Regions from separate parts of the Homo sapiens genome. Here regions 1, 2 and 4 are each linked to region 3. The links come from fine-mapping of genetic effects on gene expression. A gene starts in region 3. Each other region holds a variant in brackets. All regions are shown on one strand. Distances are from middle to middle.

Region 1 (2,607 bases), 89 kb after region 3:
TAATCCCCTATGGATGAAATTATTAATGTGAAAGGCTGATGGAGAATTTCATAATGGAGGGATCAGATTGTCACACCTGAGCCCATGGGCCCACCCTAGCACTGCTCTTGTATCTCCTGAAGTGAAGTCACGTGCAGTACACAACCCTTACAGTTGTGTCACGTGCAGTACAAACTAAGAACGGGCTGCCTTAGTTTGGATTTCCCAAAAAAGCAGACTGTATCTAGGAAAAGGATCGGGGTGCAAGTGATTTATTTGGAAGATGATCCCAGAAAGCATCCGTCTTTAAGAGAATAGGGAAGTGAGGCAGGGAAAGGCAGAAAGCCAATAAAAAGTGAATTAATGAGTGGGTCTTTACTCCGGGAACTGGAGCTCCATTCCTCTGGGGACCCTCTGAAAGGCTATACAGAACATGTCGGAAACCTTCCCTAGAGAGGCGAGGAAGCTGGGCTATTTAGCCACCAATCTCCACCCAACGCTAGTCAAAGGCTGCTCGGGGTTGTTAACTCCCTGGCTCTTCTCAGGAGCAGAAAATGCCCTCAGGTTGCAAGACTCAGAAGGTCTGCAGGTGGCCTCCAGCACTGGCCCATGGGACATGGTGGGACACCAACAGTGCCTGCTCTGGTGCCTTGCCAGAAGAGTTGAACCTGAGGCCGGACTTCTATCTACAGGAAATATAGGGGATGGAGAAGCAAGTAAATGATACCGCAAAGAGGCAAGTAGACACACCCAGGCCGTGGGGCTCCACAGGACCAATGATTCCTTCAACGAGGGTGTTCTCTGAGCTGGTTCCCACTGTAGGCAACTGGGCATATCCTGCTGGGGCCCCTCAGAGAAACCATGAGGAATACCCTCAGAATTGTTCCACAGAAGGTAGGAAAGCTGACGCATTTATCCATGATTCCAGTCCCTCATTGCTGAGGGCTGCCGCAGGGACATCAGCTTCCTGGACTTCCAAGCTGTGTCTGCTGGAGGGTTGAGTGGCCTTCTGCAGCTAAGGAGAAAGCCCGGAGGCAGAAAAGCTGAGGGAAGCTGCAGGGCGCATTTGAAATGGGGTTCAAGCAGGGTGCATGCAACTGTCCCCCCTGGATGCCCTGAGTCAACTGGGCCAAGCAGGTGTGAGGAGCGCCCCACCAGGGTCTGTACAGTGTCTCAGCAGATGAGTTCCTGCTGCAGGTGCACTTC[T/C]GGCCTTGCTGGCTGCCTCCAGCAGATGTAAGAGCTCTGGCCCTTACCACATACTGGAATTTCTCTGTGTGGGCTGTAACGAATGTGTGCCCCCCCCCCCAAGACGTGTGGGTGTGCGTGTGTGCACACATGTGTGTGCGCGCAGGTGATATGAAAGCGCTTTGTAGCCCTGCCTTGCTCTTAGAAGTACCCGATATTTCTCAGAGTGGTTTTCCTGGACCCAACCCATTTCCTCCTCGCAGACAGGGGCTCTGTGACACTTGAGCTTGGTCATGCCACTTCCCTGCTTAAGGTCATCCAAGCAGCACCGATGGCTCCTGAGTTCCCAGACCCTGAGATGCTGGAGTGGGGCTGGAGGATGGGCCATTGCTGGGCTGCCTAGATCAGGCACCTGGGCCCGTGGATCTTACAGGGGTCTCGAGAGGTTGATGGGGTGTTGAGGTCCTGAAGGGAGTACCATGGAGGTGGCCTCCTCCACGGGCCCCTGCCCTTGTCCTGGTCTCTGTCTCTCCCTATTTCTCACCTCTGCTTCTCTTGGTCTCACTTTTCCCATCTCTCTGTCTGCCTCAGTGTCCCCCTCTCTCCCTCCCCCCGACCTCTGTACCAGTTTCCCTACCCCTGGCCCCACTTCTGTCTCGGTCCTGGCCCCACCCTCCACCTGCCTCTAACTCCATTGCTTTTTGCACACCTCCTCCTCCTTCACAATAGTTTTCTTTTTCTTTTCTTTTTTGATGGAGTCTCGCTCTGTCACCCAGGCCGGAGTGCAGTGGTGGAATCTTGGCTCACTGCAACCTCCGCCTCCCAGGTTTAAGCAATTCTCCTGTCTCAGCCTCCCAAGTAGCTGGGATTACAGGCGCACACCACCATGCCCGGCTAAGTTTTGTATTTTTGGTAGAGACGGGGTTTTGCCAGGTTGGCCAGGCTGGTCTTGAACTCGTGACCTCAAGTGATCTGCCTGCCTCGGCCTCCCAAAGTGCTGGGATTACAGGCGTGAGCCACTGTGCCCGGCCCCTCATAATAGTTTTCTGCCTTCCTATCGAGAGTCAGTTTTTCAAGACAAAACAAAACAAAACAAAACCCACCACAACTTTAAAAACTCTTAGAAACATATTTTAATCACAAACGTGCAACACAGAAACATTAAGTTGGATAGAGGAAAAAATTCATAATCCCTTCACCCTAACTCGGCAGCTGTGGTCAATTTTGATGATTCCCTTTCAACCTTTTAAAATGACTTTTTCAATATAGCATCCTATACTTTGATTTTACATTCTGCTTTTTTAATCTAAATAATAAATCCCTTCAGTGGCTTCCAGTTTCTAAGCAAAACCAAAGCGCCTTTATGATGGCCTGAAAGGCCCTGAGTGATGTGCCTACTGGTTCCACCTCCCCTCTGGGGATCTCCCTGGCGTGCCCTCCTCC
Region 2 (2,607 bases), 26 kb before region 3:
ACTCCTCAGTGCAAGCAGTCCACGCACCTTGGGCTCCCAAAATGATGGAATTTCAGCCGTGAGCCACTGTGCCTGACCCTTTTTTTTTTTTTTTTAAGGCTAGTTAAGTCAAGTGAAGCTGTGGGAGTGGAAAAGGAATAAAGAAATATTTTAAACAGTTGCATACTATTCCATTTTAGTAAATGACTGTCCTACTGAAGGATGTTTAGATTCTGTCTCTGTTTTTTTTTTTTTTGAAACAGAGTTTCTCTCATCTAGGGTAGAGTGCAGTGGTGCAGTCTCAGCTCACTGCAACCTCTGCCTCCCAGGTTCAAGCGATTCTCTCGCCTCAACCTCCCGAGTAGCTGGGATTACAGGTGCCTGCCACCACACCCAGCTAATTTTTTTGCTTTTTTGTTGTATTTTTTCGGGGTTTTTTTTGGGGCGGAGTCTTACTCTGTCACCCAGGCTGGAGTGCAGTGGCGCGATCTCGGCACACTGCAACCTCTGCCTCCCGGGTTCAAGCAATTCTCCTGCTTCAGCCTCCCGAGTAGTTGGGATTGCAGGCATGTACCACCATGCCCAGCTAATTTTTGTATTTTTAGTAGAGACGGGGTCTCACCATGTTGGCCAGGCTACTCTCCAACTACTGACCTCAAATGATCCACCTGCCTCGGCCTCCCAAAGTGCTGGGATTACAGGCGTGAGCCACCATGCCTGGCCATTTTTTTGTATTTTTAGTAGAAACAGGGTTTTACCCTGTTGGCCAGGCTGTTCTCAAACTCCCAACCTCAGGTGATGCACCTGCCTCGGCTTCCCAAAATGCTGGGATTACAGGCGCCCAGCCTAAATTCTCTTTTGCTGTAGCAAACATCCTTGTGTTAATTTCTTTGGACATGCCAAATTGCCTTGGGAAATACTTTGAAAAGTAAAAAGAACCATACAAGGGCAAGGGCTTTTATGATTAGGATGATTGTTGTTGTTTTCCTGCAACTTTGCCTTCTCTGCAGTCTGAAACCCCAAGTTCTGACCATGAGTGCTCTCTCTAGTGGACAGGCGTGCTCTCCATCACTTGCTCTAGCTGTCAGAAAAGAGTGTCTCCTGAAAGTCTCTGGCTTGGAATAGACAGCATTGTTCAGATAGGTTTGCAGTCTTTAGGCTTAGGCTGCTAAACCCTGATTATGGCCCGTTTTGGGATGGGGTGCTGGGCTACTGATGCTGGTGTGCAGCACATTAACTGCAGGGATAGCCAGAGGTCACACTTCTGGGGATGACCTTGACTTTCAGAGTAGACTGGGTGAGCGGTATTTTGCTAGATCAAGCTCTGACCTGTTCTGACCACAAGAGGACAGTAGTGAGCTGCCTAGCGCTTCTGCCAGGCTCATGGAAGGCCCTTCCTATACAGGGAGTGTCTGTCTGGAGTAGCTCCCTGCAGGACTGGGCAGCCAGGTAAATTCTCCTCTTCCTGAAGAATGAAGGTATGTGCTGGTCGTGGTGGCTCATGCCTGTAATCCCAGCACTTTGGGAGGCC[G/A]AGGTGGGCGGATCACCTGGAGTTGGGAGTTCCAGACCACCCCGACAAACATGGAGAAACCCCGTCTCTACTAAAAATACAAAATTAGTTGGGTGTGGTGCCTGTAATCCCAGCTGCTTAGGAGGCTGAGATGGGAGAATCGCTTGAACCCAGGAGGCTGAGGTTGCGGTGAGCCGGAGATCGCGCCATTGCACTCCAACCTGGGCAACAAGAGTGAAACTCAGTCTCAAAAAAAACAAAAACAAAAACAAAAGAAGAAGAAGGAAGGTATGGTAGAGGAAATCTGGTCGAATGTGATTTGAGGACAATATAGGAGAAAGTAAAATCAAGGTGGACTCCTCATGAAAATAGCTTCATTTTTTTTCCTCATAAATATAATGTATGCAGATTATAAAAACTTCAAATAATACATAAAAGTACAAAGAAGAAGCCAGGCGGGGTGGCTCATGCCTGTAATCCCAGCACTTTGGGGGGCTGAGGCGGGAGGATCACGAGGTCAGGAGATCGAGACCATCCTGGCCGACATGGTGAAACCCTCTCTACTAAAAATACAAAAATTAGCCGGGAGTGGTGCTATGCACCTGCAGTCCCAGCTTCTCAGGAGGCTGAGGCAGGAGAATCACTTGAATCTGGGAGTCGGATGTTGCAGTGAGCCAACATCACACCATTGCACTCCAGCCTGGGCGACAGAGCAAGACTCCGTCTCAAAAAAGAAAAAAATAAATACTAAGAAGAAGAGAAAGATCTCCTGAAGTGTCATGGCCTGAAATAACCGCTGTTCAAATTTTTGGCAATACTTTTGTTTTTTCGAGTTTTTTGTGGCAATTTTTTTTTGAGCGGTAGCAAGGTTTATTGTGAAGAGTGAAAGGACAAAGCTTCCACAGCGTGGAAGGGGATCCAAGCAGGTTGCCCTTTTTTTGGCAATATTTTTGAAACCTGCATTTTGTACTCGGAAAATGTTGTGGATATCTATCTTTGTAAATACCTTTAATGTTAGAGGCCTCAGGACTTGTACTTGCATAAATGCTTCTTAAGTTTTTCCACCCAGTAACCCCAGAGGCAGAAAAGATGAATGCTGTGCCAGACAGGTAATGCAT
Region 3 (2,607 bases):
CTCACTCTGTCGCCCAGGTTGGAGTGCAGTGGCACGATCTCGGCTCACTGCAAACTCCGCCTCCCGGGTTCAAGTGAGTCTCCTGCCTCAACCTCCCGAGTAGCTGGGATTACGGCCCTCCTTCCGGGCGGGCGCCACCATGCCCAGCTAATTTTTGTATTTTTAGCAGACACAGGGTTTCACTATGTTGGCCAGGCTGGTCTCGAACTCCTGACCTTGTGATCTGCCCTCCTCGGCCTCCCAAAGTACTGGGATTACAGGTATGAGCCACCGCGCCTGGCCCTTCTCAAGCGTTTTCATACGTTGTTATCGATACGTGAAAGAGCCCATGAGGTAGCTGATTATTATTTCCATTTAATAGTTGATAATACTTGGAATCACTTGCCCAAGATCCTACATCCTGAAAGTCTGAATTTTGGCTTGTCAGGGACAGTTCTTAGGGTGGGTGTGTGTCTTGTGGGCAGAGCTGGGGGTGGCGTATTAATATCTTCGACGAAGATGCACACGCCATTCATTTGGGGCCTCAGGAAGGGCAGCCGAGAACTGAGCTGGCCAGGTTCCCACTTCTGAGTTGGAAATCCCCAAGCCCAGGACGTGGCGGCCACCCCGTCCCATCAGGATCTGACCCGAGGCCTTAGGGCCAAGTAGCGAGAAAGAACCCTTCGACCTTGCAGGTCACACCTCGGCTGCAGGCCCTCGACCCAGCCCAGGTGCGGATGGGCGGGGCGCAGCGTGGGCGAGCGACTCCCCAGGCCACGTTCTGCCTTCCCTCCCCGATCACATGGACTCGCCTTCCGTAGCCGGGAGTGCGGAGCGGAACGAACCACGAGGAGGAGGAGCGGGGGAGGCGCCCAGGGCAGTGGGTCAGCGCCCCGCGGGGCAGGTGGGCGGGCCCAACTGCCCGCGAGCCGGCCAGCCAGCCAGTCAGCGAACGCGGAGGGCGGGCCGGTGGCCCTGCGCGCCGCGCCCCGCAGCGCCCCCTGAGGGGCGGCGGCGGGAGCTGGTTCCGGCTGCGCGCGCAGCGGTGGTGGTGGCGGCGCGATCGGCCGGGCTGTAACCGTCGTCTGTCCGGGAGCGGCTGGAGCGGCAGCGGCGGCCGGGCACGGCGCGAGGTGACGCCACAGGGCAGCGGCGGCAGCGGAGGCAGCGGCGGCAGCAGGAGACGCAGCGGCGGCCGCAGCAGCAGCAGCAAGACGGACTCGTGGAGACGCGCCGCCGCCGCCGCCGCCGGGCCGGGCCGGGTGTCGCGCGCCGAGGCTGGGGGGGAGTCGTCGCCGCCGCCGCCACCGCTACCGCCGCCGCCGCCGCCGCCGAGGTGACTGAGGAGAGAGGCGCCTCCTCGCTCCCGCCACCGCCGGACTTCAATGCCCAGTCCCCAGCTCGCCAGCGTGAGTGCGCCCCTCCCGGGCGGCCCCCGCGCCGGCGCCGGGGGCCTCGGGGAAGGGGAGGGCGGGAGGCGCCGCAGCCATTAGTGCAGGCCGGAGACACGTCCCCGGAAGGAGGGCCGGGCCGGGCCGGGGCGGGGGAGCGAGGGTGGGTGAGCGAGGGGCGGGCTCGTGTGTGTGGAAGGGAGAGAGCTGTGCGAGCGTGGGGGAGAGTGAGTTGGTGAAGGGAGGGCGTGTGAGTGGGGGACAGGGCTGAGTGTCCGTGCGAGGAGGTGGGGGGAGTGGGAGCGCGTCGGGAGGCAGTGTCGATGTTGGGGGAATGTGGGTGAGGGCAGGGGAGGGTATGGGTGTGTGGGGAGCGTGTGGGCATGAGGGGTGGTGGTAGAATGAGTGAGTAAATGGGGGAGGAGAGAGTTGAGAGTGTGGTAAAGAGCGGGTGAGTGTGGGGGGAGAACATGGTGTGTGTCGGTGAGAAGGTGCGTGGCAGAGGCAGGAGTGTGGTAGGGTGTGCCGGCGTGTGTCCAGTGTGTGAGCAGGCATCCTAGAGGCCCTTCCCCTTGGTCTTTGTGTGTGGCGATAGTGAACCCTGGTGTGTTGGGTTGGGGAGTTCTTTCCGGGAGCATCTTGTCCGTGGGTCTTCAGGTTCAAGTATGAGGAAAGGGGGTATAAGTCTCCTCCAGCGGCACTATGATCTTCTGGCTCTGGGATTTTAATTTTTTTCCCCCAGAAAGGATGTGATGTGTTTTTTTGTTGTTGTTCTATACATTTTTTTCTCCCACGTTTCATGACTTCAAAGTAAATTTTCAAATTTGTCAATGATGCCATCCTATCCTAGTCTGGGGCCCCTGAGAGCTAACGAAAAGAAGTTTGTCTGTTGCCCAAAATCCTACACTCTGGCCTGTAGAGTGTTCAGGAGCATAAACTTTTGTAAAGTACTGCTAGTTTTTCAGGTGAAGAGTATTTTATTGTTAGGTAAATTGAACTGTAGTCTGGTTTATTATTTCCTGGAATTTGTCAAGAAATTAGCAGTGACTAGCAATTCTAGTGTCACTGTAGGCATTCAGCAAATGTTTGTCTGTCCGGAGTCGCCAAACTACATTACACTGCTGAGTTGGAATATGGTACTTGCTGTCATGCTCTGTAAGAGAGAGTAGTTTCAGAGGGAAGTGAGTGAAGTTATGCCTTGCTGAGTGTGCAAAAGGAGATTAAGGATACAGAATGA
Region 4 (2,607 bases), 31 kb before region 3:
GGAAGGTGGAGGTTGGGAGGAGAAAGAGGATCAGGAAAAATAACTAACGGGTACTAGACTTAATACCTGGGTGACAAAATAATTTGTACAACAAACCCCCATGACACAAGTTTACCTATACAACAAACCTGCACATGTAACCCTGAACTTAAAAGTTAAATTAAAAACAAGAGATGGGCTGGGCACACTGGCTCATGCCTGTAATCCCAGCACTGTGGGAGGCTGAAGCAGGTGGATCACCTGAGGTCAGGAGTTCGAGACCTGCCTGATCAACATGGTGAAACCCCGTCTCTACTAAAAGTACAAAAGTTAGCTGGGCGTGGTGGCAGGTGCTTGTAATCCCAGCTACTCGGGAGACTGAGACATGAGAATTGCTTGAACCTGGGAGGCGGAGGTTGCAGTGAGGCAAGATCGCACCATTGTACTCCAACCTGAGCGACAGAGCAAGACTCTGTCTCAAACCAAAAAAAAAAAAAAAAAAAGAGAGAGAGAGATGGTGTCCTTTGAAACACAAAAGTTTTTAATGTTTACAAAGTTCAATTTATCTTTTTTTTGTTTTGTCTGTGCTTTTGAGTATCATATCTAAGAAACTATTGCTTAATCCAATGTCGTGAAGATTGATTCCTATGTTTTCTTCTAAGAGTATTATGCTTTTTTTAGCTCTTACATTTAGGTCTGTTACATTTTTGATCAAATTGTTTATATAGTGTGAACAGGGGTTCATTTTAATTTTTTTTGCATGTGAATATCCAGTTATTGTTTTCATACATTTGTTCAAAATTGACCACAAATGTAAAGGTTTATTTCTGGACTTTCAGTTCTATTCCATTAATCTATATATTTATTCTTTTTTTTTTTTTTTTTTTGAGACAGAGTCTTACTCTGTTGCCCAGGATGGAGTGCAGTGGTATGATCTCAGCTCACTGCAAGCTCCACTTCCCGGGTTCAAGAGATTCTCCCACCTCAGCCTCATGAGTAGCTGGGATTACAGGCATGTGCCACCACACCTGGCTAATTTTTGTATTTTTAGTAGAGATGGGGTTTTGCCATGTTGGCCCGGCTGGTCTCGAACTCCTGACCTCAGATGATCTGCCCCACCCTCGGCCTCCCACAGTGCAGGGATTACAGGCGTGAGCTACCACGCCTGGCCTATATATTTATTCTTATGTCAGTACCATATTGTCTTTATCACTTTGGCTATGTATAAATTTTGAAATCAGTGAGTTCTCCAACTATTTTTTTTCAAGATTATTTTGACTATTCTGTGTCCCTTGCATTTCCATATGAATTTTAGGATCAGCTTGGTAATTTCTGCAAAAAACAAAAACAAAAA[CAAAAAA/A]AACCCAAAAAAACACCAGCTGAAATTTTGATAGGAATTGCACTGAAAATGTAGATCAGTTTGGGGAGTATTGCCATCTTACTCCCCAGAATGCCATCTGTTCATTCCAATATAGGAACACGGGATGTCTTCCCATTTATTTAGGTCTTATTAAATTTCTTTCAACAGGCCAGGAGCGGAGGCTCACGCCTCTAATCCTAGCACTTTAGGAGGTGGAGGCGAGAGGAGCATTTGAGCCCAGGAGTTTAAGACCAGCCTGGGCAACATAGTGAGACTTTGTTTCTACAAAAAATGAAAAAAATTAGCCAGGTTTGGTGGTATACACCTGTAGTCCCAGCTACTTGTGAGGCTGAGGCTGGAGAATCTCTTGAGCTTGGGAGTTAGAGGCTGCAGTGAGCTGTGATAGCACCACTGCACTCCAGCCAGGGCAACAGAATAAGACTCTCTCTATAAAACCAACCAACCAACCAACCAACCAACCAACCAAACGAACAAACAAACAAACAAAAAAAACAGACGCAAAGTCTTTTAACATTTTTATAGTTTTCAGTGTCTGAATCTTGTTATTTATTTATTTATATTTGAGACAGAGCCTTGCTCTGTCGCCCCAGCTGCAGTGCAGTGGTGCAATCTTGGCTCACTGCAGCCTCAACTTCCCATGCTCAAGCCATCCTCCGCCGCAGCCTCCCAAGTAGCTGAGACTACAGGAGTGCACATCCAGGTAATTTTTTTTTTTTTTAGACGGAGTCTTGCTCTGTTGCCTAAGCTAGAGTGCAGTGGCACGATCTCGGCTCACTGAAAGCTCTGCCATCCGGGTTTCATTCTCCTGCCTCAGTCTCCTGAGTAGCTGGGACTACAGGCGCCCACCACCACACCCAGCTAATTTTGTGTATTTTTAATAGAGACAGGGTTTCACCATGTTAGCCAGGATGGTCTCGATCTCCTGACCTCGTGATCCATCCGCCTCGGCCTCCCAAAGTGCTGGGATTACGGGGGTGAGCCACTGTGCCCAGCCCATGCCCAGCTAATTTTTAAATTTTTTTTGTAGCTACGAGGTCTCACTGTATCACCCATGCTGATCTTGAACTCCTGGCCTCAAGCGATCTGCCCACCTCAGCCTCCCAAAGGGCTGGGATTACAGACATAAGTCACCGTGCCTATCCAAGTCTTGTATAATACTTCTTTTGTTAAATTTCCTCCTATGTATATTATTCTTCTTGATGATATTGTAAATAAAAATTATTTTCTCAATTTCATTTTCAGATTGT

What was found.
Region 1: its variant is fine-mapped to the expression of PTP4A2 in whole blood (TOPMed, PIP above 0.99).
Region 2: its variant is fine-mapped to the expression of PTP4A2 in whole blood (INTERVAL, PIP above 0.99).
Region 4: its variant is fine-mapped to the expression of PTP4A2 in whole blood (INTERVAL, PIP above 0.99).

Annotation. Positions count from the first base shown.
Region 1 is chr1:31,847,378-31,849,984 of GRCh38, reverse strand. No RefSeq gene overlaps it. Among named protein-coding and RNA genes, the nearest start is that of SPOCD1, 33 kb to the right of the region's middle. RefSeq lists an enhancer at 1,150-1,199. The variant T/C (reference allele first, on the strand shown) is at 1,186.
Region 2 is chr1:31,962,998-31,965,604 of GRCh38, reverse strand. No RefSeq gene overlaps it. Among named protein-coding and RNA genes, the nearest start is that of PTP4A2, 26 kb to the right of the region's middle. The variant G/A (reference allele first, on the strand shown) is at 1,511.
Region 3 is chr1:31,936,768-31,939,374 of GRCh38, reverse strand. PTP4A2 (protein tyrosine phosphatase 4A2) reads left to right here and starts at 1,007. Exons shown (of 6, transcript NM_080391.4): 1 at 1,007-1,388. RefSeq lists enhancers at 421-690, 1,801-1,850 and silencers at 751-1,130, 1,333-1,504, 1,281-1,620.
Region 4 is chr1:31,967,649-31,970,255 of GRCh38, reverse strand. No RefSeq gene overlaps it. Among named protein-coding and RNA genes, the nearest start is that of PTP4A2, 31 kb to the right of the region's middle. The variant CAAAAAA/A (reference allele first, on the strand shown) is at 1,334.